Linked DNA regions of Homo sapiens. The protein of the gene in region 4 binds, or shares a complex with, the protein of the main gene of each other region. Links are inferred from orthologs where the notes say so. Each region holds a gene or a part of one and is shown on either strand. Other genes may lie near its edges. The genes, in order: TOM1, GIPC2, CLTA and MYO6.

Evidence for each region.
Region 1: the proteins of MYO6 (region 4) and TOM1 are in contact, whole or in part, in a crystal structure (PDB 6J56), measured with the Homo sapiens proteins. Residues at the interface, in NP_001355794.1 of Homo sapiens: Ile1182, Phe1184, Trp1202, Gln1214, Glu1216, His1218, Asp1220, Lys1221, Pro1222, Ile1224, Leu1226, Glu1234, Met1235, Cys1236, Leu1238, Glu1242, Thr1243, Gly1244, Leu1245, Arg1247; in NP_005479.1 of Homo sapiens: Ser440, Glu441, Phe443, Phe446, Leu447, Arg450, Ala451, Ala453, Ala454, Asp455, Leu457, Pro458, Asn459, Leu460, Ser461.
Region 2: the proteins of MYO6 (region 4) and GIPC2 are in contact, whole or in part, in a crystal structure (PDB 5V6H), measured with the Mus musculus proteins. The link is inferred for Homo sapiens from one-to-one orthologs. Residues at the interface, in NP_001034635.2 of Mus musculus: Ser1055, Lys1056, Trp1057, Lys1058, Tyr1059, Arg1084, Arg1085, Leu1086, Val1088, Tyr1089, Trp1092, Lys1093, Asn1096; in NP_058563.1 of Mus musculus: Glu255, Leu256, Tyr257, Met258, Gly259, Ile260, Asp262, Asp264, Leu265, Thr268, Thr289, Leu290, Asp292, Phe293, Ala294, Pro296.
Region 3: the proteins of MYO6 (region 4) and CLTA are in contact, whole or in part, in an NMR structure (PDB 6E5N), measured with the Homo sapiens proteins. Residues at the interface, in NP_001355794.1 of Homo sapiens: Met1053, Thr1054, Pro1055, Met1058, Ala1059, Met1062, Ser1087, Trp1089, Lys1090, Tyr1091, Glu1113, Arg1117, Leu1118, Val1120, Tyr1121, Trp1124, Asn1128; in NP_009027.1 of Homo sapiens: Glu47, Asn48, Glu50, Ala51, Phe52, Ile54, Leu55, Asp56, Gly57, Gly58, Ala59, Pro60, Gly61.

Annotation. Positions count from the first base shown.
Region 1 is NC_000022.11:35,295,321-35,303,369, reverse strand, and holds the start of TOM1 (target of Myb1 membrane trafficking protein), read right to left. Parts: upstream 3,477-8,049; 5' UTR 3,442-3,476; coding exon 3,390-3,441; intron 1-3,389.
Region 2 is NC_000001.11:78,041,621-78,048,965, reverse strand, and holds the start of GIPC2 (PDZ domain-containing protein GIPC2), read right to left. Parts: upstream 3,001-7,345; 5' UTR 2,872-3,000; coding exon 2,632-2,871; coding exon of another isoform or gene 2,482-2,631; intron 1-2,481.
Region 3 is NC_000009.12:36,186,760-36,194,407, reverse strand, and holds the start of CLTA (clathrin light chain A), read right to left. Parts: upstream 3,488-7,648; 5' UTR 3,352-3,487; coding exon 3,135-3,351; intron 1-3,134. UniProt on the Homo sapiens protein: Clathrin is the major protein of the polyhedral coat of coated pits and vesicles.
Region 4 is NC_000006.12:75,744,978-75,752,238, forward strand, and holds the start of MYO6 (unconventional myosin-VI), read left to right. Parts: upstream 1-4,261; 5' UTR 4,262-4,446; intron 4,447-7,261. UniProt on the Homo sapiens protein: Myosins are actin-based motor molecules with ATPase activity. Unconventional myosins serve in intracellular movements. Myosin 6 is a reverse-direction motor protein that moves towards the minus-end of actin filaments.

The DNA.
Region 1 (8,049 bases), on a different chromosome or scaffold from region 4:
ACATTCTACCAAGGAGGAAGCGGAGATTCAGAGCCCAAAGTCATAGGGCAAGGGGGCCTGAGGATCTAGGATAAAGGGAGAGTAAAAGAGCAACGTCGGGCTTGGGGCAAGCCTCAGGGAGGAGGTGATGATGCCCTGTACTTTGAAGGGTGATCTGGAGCTCCTCAGTGGGGGCACAGGAGCAAGCAACCCAGGCAGAGGGACCAGCAAGCACAAAGGGGTGTGTGTGTGTGTGTGTTGGGAGGGGAGGTGGATGAGAACTTTGTGATTCCAGTGACTGACACTCATTCCTGATTAGCATCATTAGAATCACCATCTGAGGGATGTCAATTCCATATGGCTCTACAGCTCTACTATCAACAAGGGCATGGGAGTCGGCAGGCTTGAGAAGAGATGGTACTCCTGCAGCAAGGAGGGGCCTGGTTTACAGAATTATAAGCAGCTATACTGTGTCATCAGTAATCACAGCCAGGGAGCAGTACTTCCTCCGCCTCTTTATCTAAAAGAATATGGAATACTGAGGGGATTAACTCAAACTCTTAATTCTACTTTTGGAGCCTCTTCAGCTTTGGTTTAAATTTCAATGACTCAGTTTTGCTGTCAATTTACTGGGGTCTTGGATGAGTCACAGCCTCCACTTTCCCCTCTCTGGACCTTAGTCTCCGCCAGTGTAAAATGAAGGGGATGGGCTGGAACAGCATTAGCATTACCCGGGAACTCAACAGAAATTCACATTCTAGGCCGGACACGGTGGTCATGCCTGTAATCCCAGTACTTTGGGAGGCTGAGGTGGGTGGGTCACCTGTTCAGGTTTGAGACCAGCCTGGCCAACATGGAGAAACCCCATCTCTATTAAAAATACAAAATTAGTCGGGTGTGGCGGAGCGTGCCTGTAATCCCGGCTACCTTGGGAGGCTGAGGCAGGAGAATCGCTTGAACCCGGGAGGCGGAAGTTGCAGTGAGCCAAGATGGTGCCATTGCACCCCAGCCTGGGCAACAAGAGCGAAACGCAGTCTCAAAAAAAAAAAAAAAAAAAAAAGAAAAAGAAAAAGAAAAAGAAAAAAAAAGAAATTCACATTCTAGAGTCCCACCGCAGACCTGGAGAGTCAGAAACTCTGGGGTTGGGGCCCCGACATTATTTAACAAGCCCTCCTAGGAATTCTGATGAGAACCACTGGGTTAGAAGATCCCCAAGGTAAGGCTCTTTTACCTGCAAAATTCCATTTGTGCTTTAAGGTATTATGATTTAGTAGCATTCTCTTTGCACAGAAGTATTTCTTGCCCAAGAAAGGCAACGCTTCAAGGTAAGAAGAGAAGTTTGCTTTGATTAGCTGAAATCCAGAACCCAGGTGAGCTTTTCCAGAAAGCCTTAAGAGTATGTGGCTGACTTTGAAGCCAGGTCTTTTATTTACTTGTTTATTTTTAAGTAGTAAGTCTTAAACTTGGCATGTGATAAAAGCAGTGGTTTCTGTAGTCAGAGAAATATAGATGAGAGGAGAGCTGCCTTCTCTTTTCAGCTCCAAAAAACCATGACTCACTGTGGGGTGGGTGTGTGTCCGGGGAGGGCAGGGGTCCTTTGAGAGGGCAGTTCCTCTCCCTGGTTCAGGAGCTTCCTGGTGTGTAAATCCTGGACTGCCACCTCCCCCTTGGAGAGCATTGATTACAAAACCTCGGAAGAGCCACCGACAGCCACGGTGGCGATTACAACACAGAGCCGGGTCGACAAGCTTTCGTGAGGTTTCGCAAGACACTAAGAATGGAAAATATGTCTCATCTTAAAGTTTTCCCAGTCTGGACTTAAGACGAAAAGTCGTCATCAAAAAAGATGAAGAGTAATTTCACGGTAATGCGATGGTTTCTTCATGCAAGAATGCGGAACACCCAAACCATCCTCCGGAGAAGTGTGGCTGTTTGGGTGAAGGCATGTCGGTTCTCATGGTGTTGGTGCCCAAGAATGAGCACCTATGAGATCTACTGCCAAGCGATTTCCAGGGATTCCTAACCTTCACTTGGTGATCTCAGGAACAACGTGTGTGTGTAAATACATATAATATATATGTATGTGTATGTATATGTATGTTTGTATGTGTATATTTTTATATATATGTGTGCGTGTGTGTGTGTGTATGTGTATGTGTTTCAAGAGATGGGCTCTCCCTGCGTCGTCCAGGCTGGAGTACAGTGGCGCCATCAGGGCTCACTGCAGCCCTGACCTCCCAGATCCAATAAATCCTCCCAGCTCTGCCTACCGAGTGGCTGGGTGCACAGGCACGCACCACCACGCCCGGCTAATTTCTGTATTTTTTTTTTTTTTTTTTTTTGTAGAGACGGGGTCTCGCCATGTTGCCCAGGCTGGTCTCGAACTCCTGGGCTCAAGCGATCTGCCCGCCTTGGCCTCCCAAAGTGCTGGGATTACAGGCGGGAGCCACCGTGCCCAGCCCAGTGATAATAAATATTACAACTGTTTTTTTTTATATGGCACTGGCCATGTACCAGGCATTGTTCTAAGTATTTCACATTTATTAAGGAATTTAATCTTCACAACAAGCCCACGGAGGTGGGGACCATTATTGCCCGCCAACTACAGGTGAGGAAACCTCGGCCCAGGGAGGCTGCGTCACAGAACTGTGAGTATCCTGTCACCAGGGTGCAGAGAACCACGGACCAGCAGACAGGCGCCAGGTGCCCTGGGCTTGGCTTGGCCCGAGTTCCCGGCTGCCCCACCTACGGAGCACCGAGATGGGCTGACCAGGAGGGTTTGTCCGACCACTGTCTGCTCAGGTTCTGAGAGTCTGTGCGGGTCCATTTGAGGTTGGGTCGAGAAAAGAGCCCAGGCGGACACGTCCTGAGACCCGGGTCTGTGAGGCCTGGCCGCGGGCTGTCCGGCGCTGGGCCCCTCTGGCCAGTTGGCCCCAAGACGCCAAGCCCGGGGCTTCGCGGTCCTGGGAGAAGGGACTTCTAGCCCTTCTCAGGTGTCTGTGTCCGGAGGGCCCGGTGAGCCAGGAAGGAGCTGGCCAGAGCCCAGGCGGCGGGACCCAGCAGAGTGGCCCAGCCACTGCCAACCACGCAGTCCCTTTAACCACGAAAACTTTCTCCCTCGATTGGGGACCCCAGCAGACGCACATTGGCTGCGCCGTGGGCATCCGGACCCACCCTCTCTCCTTACCTACTGGCTGTCATATACATCTATCACAAGCCAAGGCTTCCTAATGGCCCAAGTTCTTGTCAATCAAGAGTGGGAGGAAAGCTGGGCGGAGCCAGGTCGGAGAGCTACACGCCAGCCTCCTTGCCCTCCCTGCCTCCGTGACTAGGCACCCGGAGGCTTCCCAGGGGACCGAAGCTGGGTGCGGAGCACCGGGGCGGAGCTGTGGGGGGCTCCAGGGACTCACCGATGCGCTGTCCCACTGGAGAGCTGAACGGGTTCCCCAGGAGAAAGTCCATTGCTGCTACCGCCGCTGCCACCAACCCCGGGAATCAGCTGACAGCAACCGCCAGCGCCACCGACCCGTCACGTGACGCACTCGGAGGCCGGCGAGGAGGCGTGGGCGGGGCGGTGGCACCGCGAAGCTCGACCACAAGCCCCGCCCTGAGACGCCAGGGTCCCGCCCCCGAGGCGGAGGGCGATGACCTCACTGCGGCTTGCTCGGCGGCGGCGGGCGTCACACACGATGTAGGGTCTGGGGTCGGGGCCCGGGAAGCGCGGTCCTCTTTAAGCCACGCCCCTGACCTTTTAGGGCGAGGTCTAAAGGACCCTTTACACATTTGGGAAACTGGGTCGTAGACCAGGGAAGTGACTTGGGTGAGTTACACAGAAGCCGAGACTCTTAGGGTCATAGCCCTTAGTCCTTGGGACCTCACTGTGACTGCACACCTACCCTGGGTGACAGCCTCTCTGGGCTGTTGTCTCCTTGTCCCGGTAAGACTCTTCCTGTTTGATGTCAAGGTCTCCCCGCTCCAAGATGCACCCTGCTCGCAGCCCAAATTATCTTACCTTAAATCAGAGGCAAGGGCAAGGGGTTTGTCATCTGTTGAGACTGAGAGGCAATTTAATGAATTGCAGCGCAATTCCCTCTAGCGCCCAGGATGGCAAAAAGCACAGATGTAGTCACGAGTGGGGCTTTAATACCCGTCTCTGCCATAAATTTACTGTGTGAGCCAAACATAGCTCCCATTTTCTCTAGATACTGGAATTAGATCAAGGACTCGTAACCATTTTTAAAAAATATTTTATTTAGGTCACAGTCTCCTTTGAGAATTTGACAAAAGCCATGAGCCTTTCTGAAGAAAAAAGGCAGCGATACAATTTTGCTTATAACCTCAGGGAGTTTCTGGGGTCCCTGAAGTACAACCGTGGACCCCAAGCTAAGAATCTCAAAGGCCTTTCCCAGCGTTGTGATTCTAATCTCTTCAGCCTTCCTGGCTGTGTGTGGTGTGTCTGCTGACACCTACACACTAGATACCTATCTATGGGTTATGACCTTTTCTTCTGGCATGTACTCCAAAAATACAATAACCATGGCCTTAGTAGTCTGGCTACTGTGGGTGCTTAAGTACTTATTGTGATGTTTGTGGTTTTTAAATCTGAAAGGCTAGTAAATTGACTGCACAAATTTTGGATGACAGAAAACCTAAATTAAGCAAGGTGTGGTGGCTCACGCCTGTAATCCCAACATTTTGGGAGGCTGAGGCAGGTGGATCACCTGAGGTCAGGCATTCAAAACAAGCCTAGCCAACATGGTAAAATGCCGTCTCTACTAAAAATACAAAAATTAGCCAGGTGTGGTGGTACACGCCTGTAGTCCCAGCTACTTGGGAGGCTGAGGCATGAGAATTGCTTGGACCCAGGGGGGCAGAGATTGCAGTGAGCTGAGATCGTGCCACTGCACTCCAGCCTGGGTGACAGAGTAAGGCTGTGTCTTAAAAAAAAAAACAAACCTAAATTAGAACTTAATCACCTCTGTAGATTCACTTGTTTGAGCAGCCATGGGGTCCGATGTCTTTACTGTACAATATAAAAACTGCTTTGAAGTGTTTCCACAACACTCATGAGACCTGTTCACAAATGCCTTTGCCCCCACGAGTCTGGATGTCCCTGGGGGCTGGGCTACTATTTCTGTTTTGCTCCCCACTATTGTCTAACCCAGTAACTAGCACATGAAAGCTTAAATAGATCTACGTTTCAGTAATGGTATTTGGAGTATAAGCGGGGAGAAGGCCATTTAAGATGACCTTCAGGTCAAGGCACTTTCCATGTCTTTCTTCACTTAACCTTATTGCTTGGTCATATGGAGTTATGTTTAGCATGAACTTCTTTTGGATTCTTCCATTAACCTTTATTTATTTATTTTTAGAGGCAAAGTCTCACTATGTTGCCCAGGCTGGTCCTTGAACTTCTGAGCTCAAGTGATCCTCCCACCTCAGCCTCCCAAAGCCCTGGGTTACAGGCATGAGCCACCATCTCTGGCCCTTCCTTTAAGCTTTTAACAAGTTCTTGTAAACTTTATTCATGGTAAAAAAAAAAAAAAAAAAAAACAAAAAAAAACAAAAACAGAGACAACTCATATGCCCCCAAACAGGAAGTGGAATCATAAACTCCATGCAGGCTGGGCACGGTGGCTCACACCTGTAATCACAGCACTTTGGGAGACCCAGGCAGGCAGATCACGAAGTCAGGAGATCAAGACCATCCTGGCTAACACGGTGAAACCCCATCTCTACTAAAAAAATAGAAAAAATTAGCTGGGCGTGGTGGTGGGCGCCGTGGTGGGCGCCTGTAGTCCCAGCTACTCGGGAGGCTGAGGCAGGAGAATGGCGTGAACCTGGTAGGCGGAGCTTGCAGTGAGCAGAGATTGCACCACTGCACTCCAGCCTGGGAGACAGAGCGAGACTCCGTCTCAAAAAAAAAAAGAAAAACAACTCCATGCAAACTGATTACTATATAGCTATTGAAACAGAAATGGAAGTATATGGATTTATTTATTTATTTATTTTTAAAGACAGAGTCTCTGTCACCCAGGCTGGCGTACAGTGGTACAACTGTAGCTCACCGTAGCCCTGATCTCCTGGGCTCAAGTGTCTTCCCACTTCAGCCTCTTGAGTAGGTGGGACTGCAGATGCATGCCACCATACCTGGCTAATATCTTTTAGTTTTTGTAGAGATGGGGTTTTGCTATATTCTCCAGGCTGGTCTCAAACACCTGGCCACAAATGATCCTCCTGACTTAGTCTCCCAAAGTGCTGGGATTACAGACACGAGCCACTGCACCTGGCCAGTATATGGATTTTATCAACATAGTAGATAGGGATGTAAATGGCAAACATTAAAGTTAGTACAAAACTGATTAAAACTGTCTTTAAAAAGTGTGCTAATAAGGAGCAAACTGATTTAGTAAAAAGTGTTTCAATTTACTTTTTAAGTGTTTTAGTAAAATTAATATCATGCCTTACTGAGGGTTAAAATGTTCAAATTTCTTAAGATTGACAGTCTGCATAAATGTAATCTATTAAATCCTTTAAGTGCTTACAGACAAAAATCAAGATACCTTGCCTTCAAAATTTAAAGACAATAGTATGACAAGAGTGAAAGCCAGCTAGATACCCGAACAATGCAAAGATCTGAGACAGCATTCCCACAATCACATTCGCTCAGGACTTGAGATAATGGAAAGCATTCTGATGAATTATAGACATGATTTAAATCTGAAAGTAGCTTGGGGTAGAAAAGAGCCTAGGGTTTGGGGTCAGCTGTTTCACTGTTCTTAATCTGCCTTTGCCATTTACTAGCAGTATAAACTTAGGAAAAGTACTTTTTCGCATCTATAAAGGGAGATAATATTCTTAAGGCTTTGGGCGGAGGATGAGTGAGACAAAGTATGCAAATCACTCTAATAGTCACTCAGTGATACGGTAGTCTCTTCCTTGCTGCCTTTCCATAAGACATTAGCCTTGTAATTAATCATATTATTTTACTATTTATGACTTTTAACACCTTGTGTTTGCACTGAAGTTTTTACCTTGAAAGGTCATATCTCCATATATTCAGTGTTCATAATGTTATTAAACATTCATGTCAGGCTGGCTGGCTGCAGGTCTACAGACAGGGAAGTGACTTTAACACTATTCTATAGATGGGACTTTGGAAGCCTATAAAGATTAAGTAACTTATCAACAGCATTACTGTAATGCTAACAGGACAGTACTGAAACATATCATTTAGCACATGATTCAGATGCAACCCTTATATAAGATTAATCAACATTTTCTTGATTTAGGCCAACACCATAATGCACATAGTTTCATTTGCCAATAAATGGAGGTGGAATTATCAGATTCACTAAATTTGCAATTTGCAAAAGAGAAAATGAGAACCTCTACAATGTAAAAGTTAATAGAAGCAGAGTAAGGAGTATATTAAGAAAATGGCTAAGATTAGAAATTTAATCTCCATTGTGGGTTGATTTTTTTCTTAAGAAAATTATGGTAGAATAGAGTGAAAAACAGGTTTTATAATTTCATAGCAACTATGATGATCATGATTAGGGAAAAGACAGCTGAGACTGGACTACAAATATTAAAAATGTGATTTTTAATAATATAAGTACAAAATTTTATTTCTTTATACAACTGTAATGGGATTTGGATCAAACCACTAGAATTTATTTAAAAAACAAAATAAAACAATGATATAAAAACTGCAAGAAGGTCTGAATCCAAAGTTTTTCCTCTAATAGTACCAAATACCACAAGGTACAGATTATTATACAAATGTGTACAAATTTTAAATACAAATACAATAGGGCTGGGTTTCAAAGGAAAACAAACAAAAAGCAGGTCCTCATCAGGATTTCATTAATGTATATAAATGACAATGCTAGGATTAATGTCTTCCTATACTATCCATGTCTTCCCCGCCCCTCCTAGATACCCTGTGTCAAACAGGAAACTTCCACAGATACAGAAGAGGCATGGTACAATGTTCTAACACATGAAATCAAGTTAAGATTTCTGTTCCTCTTGATTTTGGTTCTCAAACAATCCTGTTTCTCTGTA
Region 2 (7,345 bases), on a different chromosome or scaffold from region 4:
ATGGAAAACTTGCATTAATGTTGGTTATATGCATAAACATGGTAAAACTGGGGTTTTACCCATATACCCGGGTTATAAAATGTTATAAACTTTGATCTAACACATGAAAACAACTCGTGTATATTATCTTGGAAACTGACCTTGCAAGTCAGTGCACTGAAAATGTTGAACGTGGCTACCAAGCTATTGCTGAGACTCTGGAAAACTTGGGTAACAATATAGCTTCATGGGAGGAAAAAAAAAAGATGGGCACAATGGCTCCGTGTCTGTGTTATTCAAGAGACTGAGGTAGGAGGATCACTTGAGAGTAGGAGTTTCAAACCACACTGAGCAACACAGAAAAACCACATCTCTAAAAAAAAGTTTTTTTAATTAGCCAGATGTGGTGGCACATGCCTGTAGTCCCAGCTACTTGGGAGGGTGAAGCAGGAGGATTGCTTGAGCCTAGGAGTTTGAAGCTATAGTGAGCTATAATCGCACCACTGCAGTCCAGCCTGGGCAACAGAGTGAGACCCCATCTCATTAAAAAAAAAAGAAAAGAAAAACAGAAAACAAAAAAAAAGAATACACTGAATTCAAATCCAGGCTCTGCCACTTGCTATGTGTAATTCTGGAAAAATTCTGAACCTCAAAGTCTGTTTCCTCTCTGTGAAGTGGGGATATTAATAATAATACTTACTTCTTAGGGATTAAGTAGATTGAATAAAATCATGTACCTTGAGCTCAGAATAATGTCATATATAATGATGAGAAGTGTTAATGCAAAATACACATGCTCCTCTACTTACCAAGGTGTTATGTCCCAATAAATCCATTGTGAGTCAAAAATATCATAAGTCAAAAATGCATTTAATACCCCAATAAACCCATAAAGTGGAAAAATCTTAAGTCCAGGAAGTTACATCCTAATAAATCCATGGCGAAGTCAAAAATCTTAAGTCTAACTATCATAAACCCAGGACCATCTGTAACTAAAACTGAAGTCCCTGGTTACAGCAAAGACATTTAAAGTTGTCAGTTAAGTATGCTAACAAGCTCACTAGCTTAGGAATCAGAAGATCCAAGTTTAAATTACAGTCAAGTTTTTTTTTGCTAGGTATGTGACCTTGGCTAAGGGCCAATCACTTTGTACTTCAGTCCTTCATTTAACTGTTAGGTATTAATCATATTAGTTACCATGTATTAAGCCCTAACCATAAACTATGCAATCTGATACGTTTACATACGGACTCCACTCTTCACAATACTCTTCAAGACAAATATTCTAATCTCTATTTTACAGATGGCGAAAACTGAGAGAAGTTAAACTCATTCAAGTCCACACAGCTAGTAAAGGGTAGAACCTGGCTCCATGTCCAAGTTATCGTATTTAACCTGCCACCTGCCTCCCCTAGAGATCAAAGGAAAGTGTCCTGTGAAAGTGTTTTTTGAAAAAAAAAAAATCCTATATAAATGTGAAGTATTATTAGTATCCTATATCAATACAAATAATTCACAGATGGGTTTGCGATTTGCCCCTTAGTGCCTGGGAACTTCGAAAGAACAAAGGGTTACACTTTAAGCTCTCTTTCGTCTCCTCTTGGAATTTTGCCTTGACCTCAATTTCCCTTGAACAGACCTGATAAACAACTAATTAAAGAACTCCAGGTGCCGCTGTAGGCCTCAAAGACAGCTCTCTGCACTCCTCTGAGTCCAGGGCAACAAAATTATATGCTTTTCCTAGAAATGTGGACAAAATATTTTGTTGAGCTAACTTTTCACACCTACCTTTGCAGTTCACTTGGGTTAGCACAAATAAAGTGGTCACATAAACGTTCACATAAACTAGTGCTTTAGGTCATGCCTGTGTCAAACTTAGTTCCAGGCCCCCATGAAATCTAATTAAAGCAAATTTCAGTCCCTTTTTAAGGATACGATGTAAAAGAGCTGATCTTCCTCATGAAAATTTTGTTAACTAGTCCCACGTGATTAAGTATGAATCTCTAGGTTATCCACTCTTGGAATAACAGCCCAGCTTTTTAAACTTCTTGGAAATACCACCAAAGGGTTTCTGGTGCTGATGTTAGAAATGACAGATTGGGGGAAAGTGGGCCTCCGTTTGGTATTACCTGGAAGGCTCTTCAATGTTTTCCCCCCCACTTAATCTGGGTATCACCTGCAAGGCACTTCTATTTTTTTTTTCCCCCGTTAATCTAGGGAGATGACCTGCGTGACTCTCACGCCTGCGGAGGAAACAGGAGAGTAAAGTCCAGATGAAGTGGAGGGTATTAATCTGCCCCGCCAGATCTCGAGTCTGGGAAGGTGCTCACGCCTTGAACGGCCGGCGGAATCCGGGACATCTGGAGCAAACACATTTGCAAGCGGAAGAAAGGTTGCCTCCCTCAACCCGCTTCCCAAAGGCCAGATCTCGGAGCAAGGGGGACTGTGACTTTCTGCGGTCCTGCCAAGTTAAATTTTCCCTTCCAGGGAAGGCACACTCACTTTCCCCCGGGACGCCCCCGGCGGACTCAACACGGCATCGGATTTCGCGCTCCGGGAAACGCCGCTCAACCCTCCTGGGCCCACAGAAATACGCGCGGCGCGGCGCGGCGCGGCGGAGAGGCGGGAGAGCCTGAGCACCTGGCGCCTTACCTCCGACGGCGAGATTTCAAACGCGCCCGCGATCTGGGCGTAGAGCTCCTGGATGCTGGAGAAGCCCTCCACTCGGCCCGTGGCACTACCGTGCGCCAGCTGCGCGTGGAAGACCAGCCTGCGTGCGGGAGCCCGGGACGCTGAGAGGCTCCCGCCGCCCGCGCCCGTCGGCTCGCCCTCCACCAGCCCGGCGGTCTCCTTGGACTTGGCCTTCTTCTTCCCCCGCAGCTTCAGGGGCATCTTGCAGGGCCGAGAGCGCGGGCCCACCTGCGCTGCCGTCCGCCGCCTCCTCCCCCCGGCGCCTCGGACTTTGCGCCCCGGGCCCCGCGCAGGTAAAAGCAGCCTCCAATGGCAGCCGCGCTTCCGCCTGGCTGCGTCGGGTCAGGGCCCCGACCTCCACCCCTGGACCGGAGCAGCCGCCCGCCCGCCCAGCCTCCCCCGGGATGGATCTGGAGAGAAAGAAAGTTACGTAGTCCCTCATCCTATCACCAGGTTTATCCCTACTCCTTGTAAAAAATGGCTCTATTTACGTGAACGCCTGAGGATGCCGACGCTACAGAACAATACGCCTTAGAAGGCAAACACGCTGGCCCTTCTCTGCTTTTCATAAATCTGTAGTAGGCACCCACGCATGATTTGGCCACAGGCCTTCGGGTCCGTACGTCTGGACTTTCGGGGATAGGGATTTAAGTAGAAGTCAACCTTCGTCTGCATTTTCTGCGTCTTACGCTCTGCAGGGCAGAATTGGAAGAGAAAGTCACATAACCTTGAGCTTGGTGCTACGTTGTATTCATAAACCCCCTCAGCCGGGTCCTTGGCACCTCTGAGTTTCCCTTTTGCCTATTTCCTGGGCTGCTTCCTCTCCCAACATTCAGCACGCCTCCAAAGCCATTTGCCCCAGCTCTGCCCTTCTTAGTCTCTACAGAGGACCTTGCCTCATATAGTACAAAGAAAATTGAGGCCATTCGGTGTGAAGTGTGAGTTCCCTCAATTCCCTACCTCGCGTTTATTGCATTGTTTTCAAGTCCAGTCCCCTCCAACTACGCTTTTTACAACAAAGCAAAACAGTCTTGAATTATTAGCTACGAAATTTCCTCACTTCTCTGCTCTTAGAAGCACTGTGATCAGACTTTGCCCCCACACTACTGAAATTTCACTTACTATGCAATTTCAGTGGAGTGAAATCACTATCATATCTTAATTACCAAATACAAGTAATTCTTTTAGGTTTTTATCTTACTTGGTCTGCGTTGCCCATTTCATTCTTCTTAAATTTTGTCCTCTTTTGGCTTCCTTACCTCTCCTCTCCCCGTCCCCACCCTGCTCCTTGCTAACTGCTAGTCTCCAGGAGTTGCATTCACCGACAGTTTTTCCTCGACAAACTTCCCTTCTTACTTAGCTTTGCATGTTCTTCCTGTATGGTCACATCAACATTCTCGGTTTCACAGACGTTGTTGTCTACCAAATGTCTCCAACTCCAGCTTATTCTACCAGAAAGGGAATGTACTGTAGGAAACCCAAATTGAGACTGAACAAAACTGACCTCATCATTTCTCCTGCATCTATCTTTTCTTTTTTTTACTCCTGATTTCAGTTAATAGGATCACCAAGCACTCCCAGACCAGACATTGTGGAGTCGTCGTATCAGGATTTTTCCTCTTCCCTCACCTCTCACATCAATTCAGTCCCGAAAATCCATATTTCTCAACTTAAGGTTAGCAGATGTACTGGGGGAGGAGAGTCTTAAGAATTCTTTAGGAGGCCGGCGCGGTGGCTCACGCCTGTAATCCCAGCACTTTGGGAGGTGGAGGCGGGCGGATCACCTGAGGTCAGGAGTTCGAGATTAGCCTGGCCAACATGGTGAAACCCCGTCTCTACTGAAAATACAAAAATTACCCGGGCGTGGTGGCGCATGCCGGTAGTTCCAGCTACTCGGGAGGCTGAGGCAGGAGAATCGCTTGAACCCGGGAGGCGGAGGTTGCAGTGAGCCAAGATTGTGCCACTGCACTCCAGCCTGGGCAACAGAGCGAGATGAAAAAAAAAAAAAAACTTTAGGATAACTTTAACATTTTTGTTTTATGTTTCTGTGACTTAGAAAAGTAATACAGGGACACCTGCACTCAGCCAGTGCTGCTGCTGTTGCTTCCCAGGAGAGCCAGGGCAACTTTCCACTTGGCCCTCATCCAGCTTCAAGTTTCTTCATCAAATCAGATAACAACACTCGAGCTTGTAGCCTTGTCCGGGAGACAGCAACGCAAGGAGCCAAAATGGTTTCTTTGTTGGAATGCTTTAATTCTCCATATGGCACAAAATATTTTCCTGAATATGCAGCGAAAATTCCTGGTAAATCCACACAGAAGCTTTCTGAAGTAGCAAAGGAATACAACCTCACTAGAGGTTCCATCCCTGAAGAGGATGCTGGGAAATTAGATAACACCTATGCTGTGTTTGCACCTCATGGAACTTTACTAGTAAAGCACAGAAAGGTCCATCTGCTTAACACTGGTGTTCCTGGAAAAATGACGTTTCAAGAATCCACAATGTTGAGTCCAGGCAACAGTTTCTCCACATTTGATACTCCTTACTGCAGAATGAGTCGGGGCATCTGCTATGACACTGGTTTGCAGAGCTTGCACAAATCTACACACGGAAAGGCTGCCAGCTGTTGGTTTATCCAGGGGCTTTCAGTTTGACCACTGGACCAGCCCACTGGGAATTGCTTCAGGCTCTTGATAATCAGGTGTATGTGGCCACATTCTCCTGCCCAAGATGACAAAGCCTCCTATGTTGCCTGGGGACACAGCACTGTAGTGAACCTTTGCTGCTAGGGCTCTCAAGGAAGAAACAATCATGTATTCAGACATAGACCTGAAGAAGCTGGCTGAAATCCATCAGCAGATCCCCATTTTTAAACAGAAGCAATCAGACCTCTGTGCAGTGGAGATGAAAAAGCTCTAAAGTTTATGTTTCCAACGTGTCGCAAAACAAGAAGATACGATTCTGCAACATAATCAACTCCCTATTCTTTAATGAAGATCCTTTTTTTAAATTTCACCCTTTTCCTTCCCAAGGAGCTCTCTATTAAGATGATAAATCCTCAGCAAGCTGATATTTTCCACACCACAATAAGTAGTTAAAAAGGAGCCTGGAGCCGAAGAGCTGGCTCTGAAGTTCCTTCCGTATTTAAGTTGCCTCAGAGCAGTTTGTGAAAGTAACCGATCTTGGTATCCTGGTGATTGATTCACCTAATACAAATATATTTGTGTCATGAACCTCTTATCCCACTTGCTGGAGTTGGAATCCATTATCTGGAAAACTTGATCTGATGCCATTCTTTTCCTAGCAGTACCTTAAAGTTCCATTTTTTGTCCACAAGTAGCTATAGGACGTAAGGTGATAGATCTTTGGTGTTTGCTAGGGGAGGTTGCAGCCCCTTCCTTCCTAGCAGCCTTTGGGCTCTTCAAATTTAAGAAGAAGCTCATCATTCAACCCCAGACCCTCTTGGTCTTTGGGGGAAAGACTGGGTCAACAATGACCCCCATGGGAGAATGGCAGTGGTGGCATTTGGTGAAGGCAACAGTATGAATCTGCAAAAGATTTGATAGGGTCGAGTGTCTGGAAGTCCAAAGTCCCTTTTTTTTTTTTTTTTTTTAATTTTTCCCCTAGTAAGACTTTCTCGCTCCATAGATAAGCAATCACTGTACCAAGTGATTCTTAGACTTTTTGGTCTCAGAATTCTTTTACACAGTTAAAAATTAAGGACTGAAGCCTGGCGTGGTGGCTTACACCTGTAATCCCAGCACTTTGAGAGGCAGAGGCAGGCCAGGACCTGGCCAACATAGCGAAACCCTGTCTCTACTAAAAATACAAAAATTAGCCTTGCGTGGTGGCACACGCTTGTAGTCCCAGCTACTCTGGAGGATGAGGCATGAGAATCGCTTGAACACGGGAGGTGGAGGTTGCAGTGAGCCGAGATCTCACCACTGCATTCCAGCCTAGGCAACGGAGCGAGACTGTCTCAAAAAAATAAAAAATAAAATAAAATTTTCAAATATAGACTAAGGACTGAGGCCCAGCACGGTGGCTCACGCCTGTAATCCCAGCACTTTGGGAGACCAAGGCGGGAGGATAGCCTGAGTCCAGGAGTTCGAGAGCAGCCTGGGCAAAGTGGTGAAACCCTGTCTCTACAAAAGAATACCAAAAAAAAAAAAAAAAAAAATCAGCTAGGTGTGGTGGTGCATGCCTGTAATCCCAGCTATTCAGGAGGCTGAGGTGGGAGGATCGCCTGAGCTTGGGAGGCAGAGGTTGCAGTGAGCTGAGATCATGCCACTGCACTCCAGCCTGGGTGATAGAGTGAGACACACACACGCACACACACACAAAATTAAGGACTGTCAGGCGTGGTAACAGGCATCTGTAGTCCTAGCTACCTGAGAGGCTGAGGCCAGAGGATCCCCTTGAGTCCAGAACCTTGAGTTCAACCTGAGACCCCATGTCAAAAATATATATGTATTATAGGACTGCAATGAGTCTTTGTTTATTTATGTTAACAGCTAGTGATGGGCTGGTAATCGTTTAACCAGCTATTCATGAAAAAGCCTCGATTTTGCTAATTTTCATTGTGTAAATACTTCACCATGGCTGAGTTCCAGCTATCTACATGACACCTCTAAACAGAGTTGGGAATGTTGTACACAATCAGCTCTCAGGAGCT
Region 3 (7,648 bases), on a different chromosome or scaffold from region 4:
GCTACCAATAAAATTACTTCTCCAGAAAGCTTCCCTTTAATTCACCCATGTCTCTTTCTTCTCCTACAAGAAATAACTTGTCACCGGGTGCGGTGGTTCACACCTGTAATTCCAGCACTTTGGGAGGCCAAGGCGGGTGGCTCACCTGAGGTCAGGAGTTTCAGACCAGTCTGGCCAACATGGTGAAACCCCGTCTCTACTAAAAATACAAAAAGTTAGCTGGGCACGGTGGTGGGCGCCTGTAATCCCAGCTACTCGGGAGGCTGAGGCAGGATAACTGCTTGAACCCAGGAGGCGGAGGTTGCAGTGAACCGAGATCGCACCACTGCACTCCAGCCTGGGTGACAGAGCGACTGTCTCAAAAACAACAAAACACCATAATAGTGCCTTACTGCTGTACTCTCTCTGTGGCTTGTCTCTCCTGTTCTCTTCCCCGACTCAGCCCTCATGATTGAGAGCTTTTCAACAGCTCCACTTGTGCTGCCTCCTTCATGACCACCTGTTCTTCCTCAATATCCCCCACAGCTGGTTACCTCAATATCACTTCACCCAGCTGGTTTCTTCCTGCCTCTAAACCTACGTCTCTTTTCTGGATCTCTTAACAACCAAAGGAGTCATCCAAGGCTTAGCCCTAACCCCTCTGGTTTTTGCCTGTGCCCATCCTCCATAGACGCTTTCCGCAAGGCTGGGGCCAGTTTATTTTCCTCTCATCAATCTGTCATAGCTGACTGCCTATATATCTCTGTATAATACATCAGAAAGAGAGCTCCCGCCTAAAACCTCAATTTACTCAGTACACTTCAAAGCCTAAAGGCCTTGTAACTCCTTTCTCCCACTAATAGTAGCTGGAATTCACTAGATACTTAATATAACTGTAAGCACTTTATAGACACTCTTTAATGTAATCCTAAAGATGCCACATAGCATTATAAATTATATTATGCAACTTTTACAAAGGAGAAAACTGAGGCCGGGCAGTGGTGGTAGTTATATACATTGTCTGAGATCACAAAGCTAAACTCACACTCAAGCAGTTTAGGATAGCATAGAATCTTAACCACTAGAGCATATCTTTAAAAAAAAAAAAAAAGAAGGAAAAAGAAAACTAAGAGAGAAAAAGTGTCCAATCAGTTCTCTAAACTCCAAAGGAAATGCTGACCACTGCATATTACCAACTTCAATTACACTGTCAGGAATCTGGCTTTAAGTCACCAAATGCTTAGTTCACTAAGAAAGTCCCTCCTAGGAACTAAGTCAGCAACCATTTCTTTCCTTCCCTTTGCCGAAGGCTTGATGCACAAAGGACCGAGCATCCAACTCTATTCTCTCCCTTTTACCTTCCCTAACTGCCCGTCACCAAGATCTGTCAGTTCTACATAGGACCCTTGGATCTGACATTTTTGCCCATTTCTTTGTCAAACGTGAGCATCTACTACATGTCAGACACACTGCTAGGCAGTGGAGATAAAACAGTAAGGGTAACACTGTCCTTGAATCAGGACAATCTTCCAACTACAGATCTTGGGTTCTGCTTCTCCCAAATCTGTTCCACCTGGGACAGCCACAGCTGCCTGTCTGTTATCGCACTACACCCCTGCTAAAACAACTAAACACTGCAACAGAATGTGGTATATTCTAAGAGTGGGTAGACTTGGGGCTCAGCTATTAACTCGTGCTTTTTTAAGCAAGTCGTTTCTCTCTAGGATTGCTTCTCTTCTATTAAATGAGGAAGGTTAAACTAAGGGTCTAAGAAGTCAATTTTAAAATTCTCAGACAAATGTTAGAGACCACCCAATGAAAATATCCCCTAATCACTTAAGGCCAACTTCATCTCACAATCACAGCCTAGTTTAGTCCAACCTACCCGCTATAAAGTTGCATATTCGGGCATATTACATGTTCCCACTAAGTTCTTATTGGGGGACTGATTTGTTTAGGAAGCAACATGGTGCAGTCAAAAACTCAAGAGGCTGCAAACTAGCAGCACACCCACCAACCCATCCATCAAAAGGTTCCGCCTGGCTGGCACAGTAACTTGAGACTGCTGGATCTGAATGCCTTTACACAGAGCACTACTATAGTGCAGCAAAGCCTCAGTCTCCAACACTTCTACTGTCTCATGTCAAGCCAGCTTCTCTCGTATATGTTACCTACCTGGCTCCTTAAGGTTTGAATTTAGGGTAGACACTACTCCTATATGCCCCAGTAGTGCCCTATTCTCCCTTAGTTGGAATTTTTTAAGTGAATGAAAAGCCGTATTTCATTTCTTCTAGCTAAATTTCCTACTTCTTTGTATTATTAAGTAGGTCTTTTCCACTCATGATCCTAAGCATCACACACAGGTTAAGGCATCCAAAGGTCAAACTGCCATCCTACCTGCCCCATTTTTACTTGAGTTTGGCTGAGAACATTCTCTATTCACCTCTTCATCCCTCCCTGATTGGTTTAGGCTAATCTTGGGTTCTGCTTAGGCAATATTGCCTACCAAAGCTGTTCCCAGAGGAAGAGCTCCAGAAGTCCTAGCTGTAAATCAATCGCTCAACGATAGCAAACTCCTACCGCGCTTGGCAGTTCTTTCTCCAGACCTAGATCATCTTTCGAGTTCCCTACTCCCTCCTTCCTCCTCGTAATCCAACACTCTGTACACCTTAAGTGCTTAAATGCTGAACTGCATTGCTACTTTTGTTTGTATCTCTCAAAAACGATATTTCCATTCTTATTTTTTTCCGCCCTCCTTTTCTAATAACGAGTTCTGTGCTCGGCTCAGACTTATAAGCTTATAAGTCTGGAAAAACTGCGCCAATGCGGTTGCTTCAGAGACCGGACTAAAGGCACAGCAAATGCTTAATGAAAAGTTGCTGAATTGAACGGGCTTCTTCCGGCTCCGGAGCCTGCCACCCTACACTTGCTTTCTCGCTCCGCCCGCGCCCAGAAGCACTCAAACATGCTGAGAACCGAACAGGCTTCTCGAGCCTAGGTTTCTGAAAGACCGGGCCAGGGTCTCGTTTCCTGTTTGCACTGCTCCCTAACCTCCTAATTCAGCAAGGAGCACGAGTCACACAGAAGCTCTCGGACCCACTGTGGACCGAGTTTCCAGACAAGTCCTCTCGCCCCAAACGCGCCCGCACTCTCACCCGGACCCCCCGGCGGCTCGCCGTGCGGCTGGGGCCCGGGGGCGCCGCCGTCCAGGATGGCGAAGGCCTCGTCGTTCTCGATGCCCGCAATCTCGCTCTCTTGCTGCGCCAAGAAGGCCGCAGCCGGGTCTTCTTCGCCGGCGCCGGCCACTCCGTTCCCCAGCGCGGGACCGCCAGGGGCGCCGGCAGGGGCGCCGAACGGATCCAGCTCAGCCATGGCGGGCAACTGAACGGCACGGACACCAACGGTGAGACAAAAACCAACCGACCCACCGACACCACGCCCGGCAGCCACCGCTGTGGTGCCGACTGGGAGAGGAGGACAAGCGCCAGGAGGGAGACGGGTAAAGCGGAAGCCCTACCCGTGTATCCGGTCGGTCTAGGCGGTGTTGCAGAGCCGAAAAGGGAACAACCAATCAGAGGACAACAATGGTTCAGGAGCTACCCAATCAGCAAGTGGAGGGGCGGTCCCCCTAAAACAACTCGTGACTGGGGTAGGGCGGGAGGTGAGGGAGGTGAGCTGCGCGGGCCCCGGGAGGCGGAAGTGCTGCCTGATAGGGAGCGTCCTACCCACCCCGTCTGCTGGAGCTGGACTGACCAGGGACGGCCACCCCTGAGGGGACTCTAGTGCTGCACTGGGAGGTGAGGTGAAGTTAGGGCAGCGACGATTGGCCGATTACTGAAGAGGCATGCCACTTAGGCTTTCTGAACCTCAGTTTCCTCATTCGTAAAATAGAAACAAGAATCCTGCTCTTGCGCCCCCTCCCGGGATTATTAGAAGATTGAATCCTAAAAAAAAAGAAGAAGAAGATTGAATCCTTTTATGGATTTGAGGGTCCCTGGCTTTATAAATTTAAAATATTTAATTCTTTCAGCCAGCCTGGATTATTTGCTCCCTTAGAGCCCATAGATTTACTGTAATTGATTCAGTCCACTCCGATTTTTCTCGCCCATAAGTATTTTTATTTAAAAATGAATATATCTTATCTTCTTCAACGAAGCACTTTTGCAGCCATTACGTCTTTTCGGAGCTAGACAGAAGTTACTAAACCTGGAAAATTCCTTAAGGATCACTTGCTTCAAAGGGAGACACGGTGGCCCTGCTGTTCAAGGAGCGTCAGTGACCCAGAGAGTCAGTGACCAAGAGGAAACGCCTGTCTCCTGGGGACTTCCAAGATACTAGCTACAGTCTCTTATATTTACACCTTTCCTCCCTAAGGACAGCAGGAAAAAGAAAGTTCCGTGTTTCTTTTTAAATCAGGGAGATGTTAATAGCTACATGGCTCATTTTGTCTACACCACAGAAATAACAGTGGTTCCAGTTAATCATGCTCATGTTGAGGGGGAGTGCTTATGCAGGGGCCACCAGAAGACCCCTCTCCTTCACTACCACCACCACCACCCTAAGAAATGAAAAGCCAAAAAAAGAAACCAAAAAACCAGAGGTCAACAAGAAGCTTCCAGAGGTAGTCAGCAGGGGACAAGAAAGTGTTTTTATAAAAAACGCACATATCTTTGATGACAAAAAAAAAGGGATAGCTATGAAGGAAAAATGAAGCAAATAAAAATTATTTAAAGCATATATTTACTTAAAGCATAATTTTAAAGTCATTTAAAGTATGAACCATAGGAAAGTGTTGAAGAAAAACATTTAAGAAAGTTAAAATGTTAGGGTCTGCAATTGATTCTGTTTCCCCTTGTCTGTTGTTTTATGCTCATCCCTAACATACATTGGCAACAGTGCATGAAGTATTTTCACATTAGCCTTGACATAGTCTCATGAGGAAAAGAGGGGCAGGGACTACTATGAGAGAGCCCAAGGAAGACAACTTTTAGTTGCTCACAACAGTAGTAGCTCCGGAACAGACAGCATTCTTTTTGGGGAAATGCATGACTTTGGGAGAAACTCTCCTGTGATTCCCTTGCTAGAGGAGGCATTACATATTATGCAAAAGCAACAAACAAGTATACACTCAAAATTGGAGGAATAGCTGATGTGTTTACGGATGATTTCACAGAGGTGGCTTGGAGCTCAGTTTTGAAATATGGGGAACGTTTAGAAGAGTCAATAATGAGGGTCTAATGTTAGTGTCATGTAAAAGTTCAGAGGTGGGAAAATGTTTGGCATGTTTTGGGGACAGTGAGTAAATTAGTTGGAGTCTGAAGAGCTCAGCAAGATGAATAATTGAAGGAAAATCTGGGGACAGATTCTGGAGCCCTGAAAGCATTCCATGTTAAGGAATCTTAATGGCAATAAGGAACCATAGAAGGTTTCAGATAAAGGAATGTTTTGATCAACTGCTGCTTAGGAGGTTAATCGGGTCCCTGGTTGCAGGATGGATGGGGCAGAGGCTGTGGGCAGAGATGTCAGGAGTGACATGATGAAGGTCTGGGCAGGGCAGAGGTATGGAGCTGAGTGGGGAGCGTTGATGGGAAAGCGGGTCCCAGTAGGGAAGTGACTAACTTGGTGACCGACCAGAGGTACGGGCTGGGAAAAAGGCAAGGGGAAAGGATGGGGTCATAAATCATGAATCTGTGAAATTGCCAGAACCATTAGTTTGAGGGCTTTGGGGGAGCCCAGGTGATTGCTGGGAGACAGAAGATTTAGAAGATGTCCAGGAACTAGAAGTGTGTAGCCTGCCATGATCCCTGGTGGACTGAACAAAGGTGGGTGGGCAATGGGAATAAAAGACAAGACAAAAGAGTATATTTGGAAGAAGGGGTCAGGGGGCACTTTGCCTCTAGTGGACAAGGGCCCTGAGTTTTACACATCCCTCCGTATTTCGTAGGCAAAAGAGAGCGAGAAAGGGGGGGTGATTGTCGGTAATTGTCAGTTAGAGGTTTGGTTCACAGCAGGCTTGTGAGACTGCATCTTTTGAACAATAGGTGCTAGATTTCTTAGATAACTTCAAGGAGCCCTGCACCAAGGAGTGATGTCCATCAGCAAACCTTTTGGTGGCAGGTGCAGTGTGTTTGCTCACATCCTACATTCATGATAAACAGTTTGCTGTTTGATCATATAGCCTCCAGTGGAATGCTGAGTTGGTCACGATCCCTTTGGCCTTTTCGGCTCCCAACAGAAGTGTGTATAGGAGAGAGTGGGACCACAGATGGAGACTAGAGAGGGAAGGACTGAGGCCTAAATCTTGGAGGATGGCTATATGTGAAGGAGGTAGAGGGGTGGGTCAGAGAGATTGGAGAGGGTTCAGTTAGAGCTGGGTGATGGAAGTCAAGCAGAGTTTGCAGAAGGAAGGAGTGACTAGCAGAAAGGTGAAGAATGAGAGCTGAGCAGATGCTCTTGGCCATCAAGTTCCCTGGTCACCTTGGTGAGAGAGATGTCAGTGGATGCCAGGAGTGGAAATCAGTTTGCACTAGGTTGAGGGATGGAAGCATAGTGGACATCTGTTGGTTCTGCCTGCCTACATCCAATTCCCTTTGTTCTGATACCAGCACTCCAATATTCCTTTGGGGAACCATTCTTCCTCATTTTCAGTTTTGTGGTTTGGATTGAGTGGACCACCCCCATGTGACCCAGGCCTGGCCAATTAGAACATCCCATTCCCTGCCCAAATGATTGGGAATGGACAAGTGAGTCAAACCAGGCTCATGAGGCTCAATTCCAGGACTGTTACTAGAATCTTAGGGAAAGAGCTAACTCTTTCTGCTGGAGCTGACAAGCAGGCAAAGTGTAAGCTTAGAGCTTCTTGTGGTCATCTTGTCATCAAGAGGAGAGATTGAGAGTGAGAATGAGGTCAACATGGAGGAATGCAGAGAGTGAGAAAGACAACTTCCTGTTGGTATCATTGAGGACCTGGATTCAGCCATGCTTGAAGTGAAAGATCTACTTCTGTACTTTTTGGCTCTGTGAACAAATAAATTCTATTTTTTTTCCCCTTAAGACAATTTTGAGTTGTGTTTCTGTCATAAAGAATTCTGCCTAATCCAGGCCAGGCACAGTGGCTCACGCCTATAATCCCAGCACTTTGGGAGGCCAAGATGGGTGGACCATTTGAGGTCAGGAGTTCGAGACCAGCTTGGACAACATTGTGAGACCCCGTCTCCACTAAAAATACAAAAATTAGCCAGGCATGGTAGTGTGCACCTGTAATTCCAGCTACTCAGGAGGCTGAGGTAGGAGAATCGCTTGAACCCAGGAGGCGGAGGTTGCAGTGAGCCGAGATCACGCTGCTGCACTCCAGCCTGGGCAACAGTGTGAGACTCTGTCTCAAAAAAAAAAAAAAAAAAAAAAGAATTTTGCCTAATATAGAATGAGAAGTGAGGGCAAATTTAAATGTAGAAGACATTAGAAAACTTTGCAGCCGGGCACCGTGGCTCACACCTGTAATCCCAACACTTTGGGAGGCCGAGGAGGGTGGATCATCTGAGGTCAGGGGTTCGAGACCAGCCTGACCAACATAAAGAAACCCCGTCTCTACTAAAAATACAAAATTAGCTGGGTGTGGTGGCACATGCCTGTAATCCCAGCTAACTCGGGAGGCTGAGGCAGGAGAATC
Region 4 (7,261 bases):
TGGAGTTTTGGATAACCTTTCTATACTGTGATGTTTATATATTTTAATGAGTTAATTTTAGGTGAAATTGTAATTCTAACTTTGCATGTGAAATCAAGTTCATATACAATAAAGCTTGCCTATATAAAAAAAAGGAGTTGGTGACATAGATGCAGTTGAAGCTGTCAAAGCGGATGTCAGCCAGGGAAGGTGTAGAGACCCTCACACGCCTGTGTTATCTATTCCCACAAAAAAGGAGAAATGAAACCACAAAATTTTGCATATGATTTCAGGGGGATTTGTGGAGTTCCTATCTATGATAAAGGATCCGTGGATCTCAGTTAGAAATTTCTGGGATGGCACAAGAAGATCCAGGGAAGGGTCTTACAAATATTCAATGAGTGACAGCAAAGCTGAAAAACTTAGTCATGTGCCAAATAGTGACACTTGATCAATAACATGGCATATACAGTGGTCCCATAGATTACAATACCATATTTTTACTGTATTTTTTCTGTTTAGATACACAAATACTTCCCATTGTTACAGTTTTCTACAGTATTCACTACAGTAATAAGCTGTACATGTTTGTAGTCCAGGAGCAACAGGCTATACCATATAGCCCAGAGAGTAAGTTATACTATCTAGGTTTGTGTAAGTACATTCTACGATGTTCACACAAAGACAAACTCATCCAATGATGAATTTCTCGGAATGTATCCCTATGGTTATGTGATGCATGACTGTAGAGATACGGAATAACTTGTTGAGTTTTTGCAACAAATAAGATGAGTTGTATCCACCATGCTTAACTACAGCACAAGCAATTTTTCTTTTTTGAGACAGGGTCTCTCTCTGTCACCCAGGCTGGAGTGCAGTGGTGCGATCATGGTTCCCTGCAGCCTCAACCCCCCAACCCAGGCTCAAAGAATCCTCCCACCTCAGCCTCCTGAGTAGCTAGGAATACAAGCCCAGCCAATTTTCTGTATTTTTTGTAGCGATGGGGTTTCACCATGCTCAAACTCTGGACTCAAGCGATCAGCCCACCTTGGCATCCCAAAGTGCTGGGATTACAGGCATAAGCCACTGTGCCCTGCCAGTGCATGCAGTTTCTTACAAGTGTCAACTCTCTTGCCAGTTGTTCATCCATCTGTCCCATTTATTCAATAGTAATACTAATGGTAGGCACTGCTTAATGAATGACTACCATGTGAAAGCCACTCTGCCTGGCATTAGGGACACAAAGATTAAGTCCCTCACTATGACCTCAAGGAGTTTTACAGTCCAGTTGGAGGATACTTATAAGTAAACTTAAGTAGCAATAGTGAAATGTGTGTTTGAAGAGATATCTGCAATGGGTGTTAAGTGAGAAATGGGAAAGAGCACCAAAAAGCACCTAGGATTTGCATCAAGGGGGTTTAGGGAAAACGTCTTGGAGGGAACAAATAGGCTTTGTTCTGAAGGATTAATTGGATTTAGCTTGGCAATGTTCCAATGTAATAAATAGCATAGCCGTCTGTTCTGGGACACAAAAGTACTGCAGAATGACCTGAATATAAAGGACAAGAAATAGAGAAAGGCAGTGGGTAGAAATGAGATTGGAGAGGTAAGCAGGGCTAGGACACTGGATGCAAGTCATTCCAAAGACAGGCAGGTAACATTGTGCGAGGAAGTCTGGTTTAAAACAGACAGCTTTGTGAGTTTTGGACCGCAATGAATTGGGGACCTCATAACCAATGAAAACAAATTCAAATTTAATTAGAAGAAAAAAACATGGTCAGGCACAGTGGCTCACACCTGTAATCCCAGTGCTTTGGGAGGCCAAGGCAGGAGGATCGCTTGGGTCCAGGAGTTCATAATCAGCCTGGGCAATATAGAAGACCCCTGTCTCTATAAAAAAAAAAAAAAAAAAAACTGCCTGGCATGGTGGCATGTGCCTACAGTCCTAGCTACTCAGGAGGCTGAGGTGGGAATATTCATTGAGCCTAGGAGGTTGAGGTTATAGTGAACTATGATTGCACCACTGCACCCCAGCCTGGGCAATAGAGCAAGACTCTGTCTCAAAAAGAAAAGGGCTGGGCGTGGTGGCTCACGTCTGTAATCCCAGCACTTTGGGAGGCCGAGGCAGGCAGATCACTTTAGGTCAGGAGTTCGAGACCAGCCGGGCCAACATGGCAAAAACTAATCTCTACTAAAAATATAAAAATCAGCCAGGCGTGGTAGTGCACACCTATAGTCCCAGTTACTTGGGACGCTGAGGCAGGAGAATCGCTTGAACCCAGGAAGCAGAGGTTGCAGCGAGCCGAGATCACACCAGTGCACTCCACCCTGGGAGACAGAGGGAGACTCTTTCTCAAAAAAAAAAAAAAAAAAAAAAAAGAGGAAAAAAGGAAATCCCCATTATGTTAGGCAAACAAAAACAGCCAGTTTGTGACTGGTGGCTAAATCAAGAAGGATCTTACAAGACATTTTAAGTGGTTTGGACTTTATATCAAGAGTCAGAGAGTGCCATTACAGAAATTTAAATAGTGGAGTACATAAAAGACAAACTGATGACGTTGTAAAGACTGGATTAGAAGGGGATAAAACTGCGGCCTGGGAAACTGGTTAGGTGACTTAGGCAGTATGCAAGATTTGAAATGATAGTGGCCTGAAACAAGATAGTGGTAGTGGGTATAAAGAGGAATTTGATACATTAGAGAGATATTATAGAGCCAGAAGCAAAAGCACTCAGTAATGGATTGGAAGTGTGGGGCAAAGGAGAGAAAACAATCACGAAAGTCATTAGCTACAAAAAAATCTTTAAAATGTATTGATTTATCTAGGTGTGGTGACTCACACTTGTAATCCCAGCACTTTGGGAGGCCAAGGGAGGGGGGCGGGCAGGGATTGCTTGAGGCCAAGAGTTCAAGACCAGCCTGGGCAACATAGCAAGCCCCTGTGTTTACCAACAACAAAAAAATTAAGAAAATTAAAAAAATGTATTGACTTCTATTGGTTTGCCAAATGAAGTTTAGTATTAAATCCAAAATTGAGTCAGAGCAGTGTGAACTGAGACAGCCATCTTCATCTTCTCCCTCTTTTTTTCAGTTTGTTTTGAAATTTAGTTTTATATACTTAAGACTTACCTTCTGGCAATTTGGAATTAAATTTCTGAGATTGCTGTAAATTATTTCCTTTCTTTGTTTCTCTTCCTCTTTCTTACTTCCCTATTTTACTCTTAATATTTTATTGTTTTAGTTGAATTCTAAAACATCTTATCAGAACTTAGAGTTTTTATTTCTCCACCCACAGAACCATGGAGTCTTTAAGTATCAGAAATTTGTCTCCTCGTCAGAATCTTCTAGATTTCCAGAAGTTTCCAAGTCGCTACATATAAATGTTGCAGAAAAACGTGTAATTCTCATGTGCAAGTAGGCTTTTTTCAGCGGATACATTTAGCATTATAGTCAATTGTTATTTCGTTGCCTTAAAAGAAGCTGTTTTCATTGTAAAGGTGATGTGTTTTTACCATATAATTCAAATTTGCATAGGTACTTCATATTTTAAAAGGTGACTCACAGGTATGTCACTAATAAAAACAGTAACATTTAAACGACTGAGAAGGTAGGGGCTCTAAATAAAGTAAATGCGTCGGCGAGGGTAGGAGCGGGAAGAGGCAAAGGGGTGCGAAATTCCCATCCCAAGCCCCCTCCTCCAAAGACCGAATGGCAACTTAGTTGTGCGGGAAGGTTCCCCCCTATGCAGGGCAGCCCAGTCCAAGCCGGCCCGATCCGGGGCCGAGTGAGCAGTGGTTCTTGCCGCAACCGCCACGCAGCCTCGCTGCCGCCCAAGCGCGGACACCTGGTTCCTGGGTCCCCCGCGCGGAGCCCCGGACTCCTCGCCCCTTCTCCGAACAACTTTCTCCCTGCTTGAACTGATTCTCGCTGTTGGTAGACTGCACAGTCACAGTATCCAGCCGGACAGGACCTGCTTTGCCGGGACTGGAAACAACTACCGCGGCAAAAGAGGCCGTTTCGCCATGGGAAGAACAAGAACTCCCGGCTTGTCCAGGGGCAGCCCCTCTCTGCGCTGCAGGGCGCCTACCCTCGCCCCAGAGGCTCTGCGCCGCGGGCGGGGCGACCCCGGGGGTCGCGCGCCCTCTCCCGGAGCGCGCCCTCCCTCCCGGAGCGCGCGCCCGACGGCCTGCCGCGGCCCCGGCGCCCCCGCCCCTTCGGGCGCTCCGTAGCCGTGACGTGCACGCCGCAGTGCCGGGGACTCGGCGGGGCGCCGGCCGGCGGGCGGAGACCGACTCGGGATCTGTCCGAGCAGGAAGCCAGCCTCAGCCCGGCCGCTGTCGCCGCCCTGTCCTGGTGCCCGTCCGCGTCGTCGCCCTCTTCACTGGCCCTCATCACTTCTCACCGCGCCCTCCAGCTTCACCCGTACAGGTAGCCCCGCCGCCGCGCACCTGCCTTCGCTCCCGCACCGGTGAGTGTCCCAGAGACCCACTGCGGGGCGTCGGCGCCGGGGTCTCGCGTTCCCTGGCCCGGCCTTGCTCCCGGGCCTCCTCGAGCAGCTCCGGGGCCGACGCTTCTGTTCACTGCCCGAGGACGCGGGTGGGAGAAGCAGGTGATGGATGGGTGGGCCCTGGGCAGCAGTGGGGCCGGCGGTGGTTCTCGTTTCCACCGAAAGACAATCAGTCTCCTTTCATGGGTTCTCATCACCAAGGTCCCTTTGTGTTTCTTCCCTGGCTCCCAGGTAGAAGCAGAGCACTCAGGTGCCTAACTCGGACTTGGACACTCCGTGATAGTTTTATTTTCTCTTTTGTAAACACGCTTAAAATTCAGTGCAGGGGGAGCGCAGTTTGCTCTGAGATGTGAAGATCAAATGATACCATTAATAGTCTAATCATGTAGGAGACCAGATCGAGACTTTCTAAAGCCTTATTCTTAGTCTCCAGGTGGTCCAGTACCTTGAGTATGTTAATTTACGGATATGCTACTGAACAAGAACTTTTTTTGTTAATTTCCAAAAACTCCCTAAAACGATTAAAATGCTTAAACTCTGGGATTTTAATTTTAAGTAGGACACAATTTGATGGGGTTATTGCTAGAACATCCGTGTTTAAAAGTATTTCCATACAGTTTAAAAAATTCATTACCTTTTTTTTTTTTTTTTGAGACGGAGCCTTGGTCTGTCGCCCAGGCTGGAGTGCGGTGGTGCGATTTCCTCTCACTGCACCCTCCCCCTCGCGGGTTCAAGCAATTCTCTGCCACAGCCTCCCGAGTAGCTGGGATTACAAGCGCCCACCACCACGCCTGGCTAATTTTTTTGTATTTTTAGTAGAGACGGGGTTTCACCATCTTGGCCAGGCAGGTCTTGAAATCCTGACCTCTTGATCCATCCGCCTCGGTCTCCCAAAGTGCTGGGATTACAGGCGTGAGCCACTGCGCCTGGCCAAATATTCTTTACATCTTACCTGGCATAAAGTGATGTGGTGGAGGGATGCTTAAATCCTGATTTACAAGTATTAGTGAGAAATGAGGAGCACTGCCCTAACTTAATAGACTTAACTGTACGGGCTAAATAAGCCTCATTTTTTTTTTTTTTTTAATGCTCTGGTGGTATAGATGCAGTCTATCTAAATAAAGTCAGAACTTGAGAGTTTTAAAAATTAACTTTTTTTTTTTTGAGACAGAGCCTCGCTCTGTCAGCTCACTGCAACCTCCACCTCCCAGGTTCGAACGATTGACCTCCCTCAGCCGCCCGAGTGGCTGGGACTACAGTAAGGGCGCGCCACTGCCCAGCTAATTTTTGTATTTTTAGCAGAGACGGGGATTCGCCATGTTGGCCAGGCTGGTCTCGAACTCCTGACCTCAGGTGATCCACTCGCCTCGGCCTCCCAAAGTGCTAGGATTACAGGCTTGAGCCCCCGCGCCTGGCCTGAAAATTAACATTCTTAAGATTTAGCTGAAACTTATCTTCACACCATAAAACGTGAATCTTGAACTTGGACTGGTAGTGGTCATGGTACAAAGGTTGGCGGCAAAACAGCATTTCTGTACAAATTAACTGAACTTCCTAGATGTCTTGGGTTGTGGTTTTCAAACTGGAGAATGTTTAGTGAAAAAATTACCTTTGTGCCTTTTTTCCTTAATTGTAGAAACCGCCACAAATGTTACAAAGTGGGCTATAGCCAGAGCTTGAAACCATGCTGCCGTTCAAAATAGCTCACAGACTTTTATATATACAGCTCATTTTGAGTATTTTACGTTACGCAGGAATTGCATCCACTTTGGTAAACAGAAGTCATTTTAGTCTTATGTACATTTGCCCATTATTTTTGTATTTTTTGTGTGACATGCTGTTTATCATTCTCTCATCTTTGTAAGTTACATTTTTGTTTTCAGAAACCATTGTAAATGTAACAGAAGTATGAATGACATTTAAGGAAAGATCATGATTAAAAACTGTATAATATATAAAACTATATATGATATACATATATATTCTTGGTTAGTGCCTAGAAACATGAGCAAGAAAAATGTTATGAACAATTACAATATTTAATGTAAATTAATGCAATTAAATATTGCATTAAAAACAAAAGATCGTAAATCATAACCAGTAGGGATTATCTGAAATGGATTTTTCCCTGTTTATGTTTACGTGGTCAAGTTTTAAAATAACAGTGGCCAGGAAATCTGAGAGAGGCTGAAGGCTCTGTTCTCATCCTGTTGTGACTTTGCCTGGAGTCTGTGGTGTATCATGTAGCCCATTGTTTAGACAACTGGGCTGTATCTGGGTTCCAAAATGTAGCTTTCTTTAGAAAGTTTTAAAGACTTTGACCATGTGAGGCTTGAACAAATGCAAACATCCAAACATTGAAAAAAACCCATTTTAACTTTCTGTTGATAGTTGAGACTCCATTTTTGACATGTAAAATACCAGTTTTAAGAAGAGTTTACTAACCTCTGTGTAGTTTCATTTTTATATATTAAAATATCTAAAAATATTGGGAAGTGTTATAACTTAAATAAATCTCAGAGTTTATTTATTCTTTTTTTTTTTTTTCTCTGAGATGGAGTCTTGCCCTGTCATCCAGGCTGTGCAGTGGCACGATCTTGGGTCACTGCAACCTCCGTCTCCTGGGTTCAAGTGATTCTCCTGCCTCAGCCTCCTGAGTAGCTGAGATTACAGGTGCCCGCCACCACACCTGGCCAATTTTTTATTATTATTAGAGATGGGGTTTCACCATGTTGGCCAGGCTGGTCTCAAACTCCTGAGCTCAAGTGATTTGCCT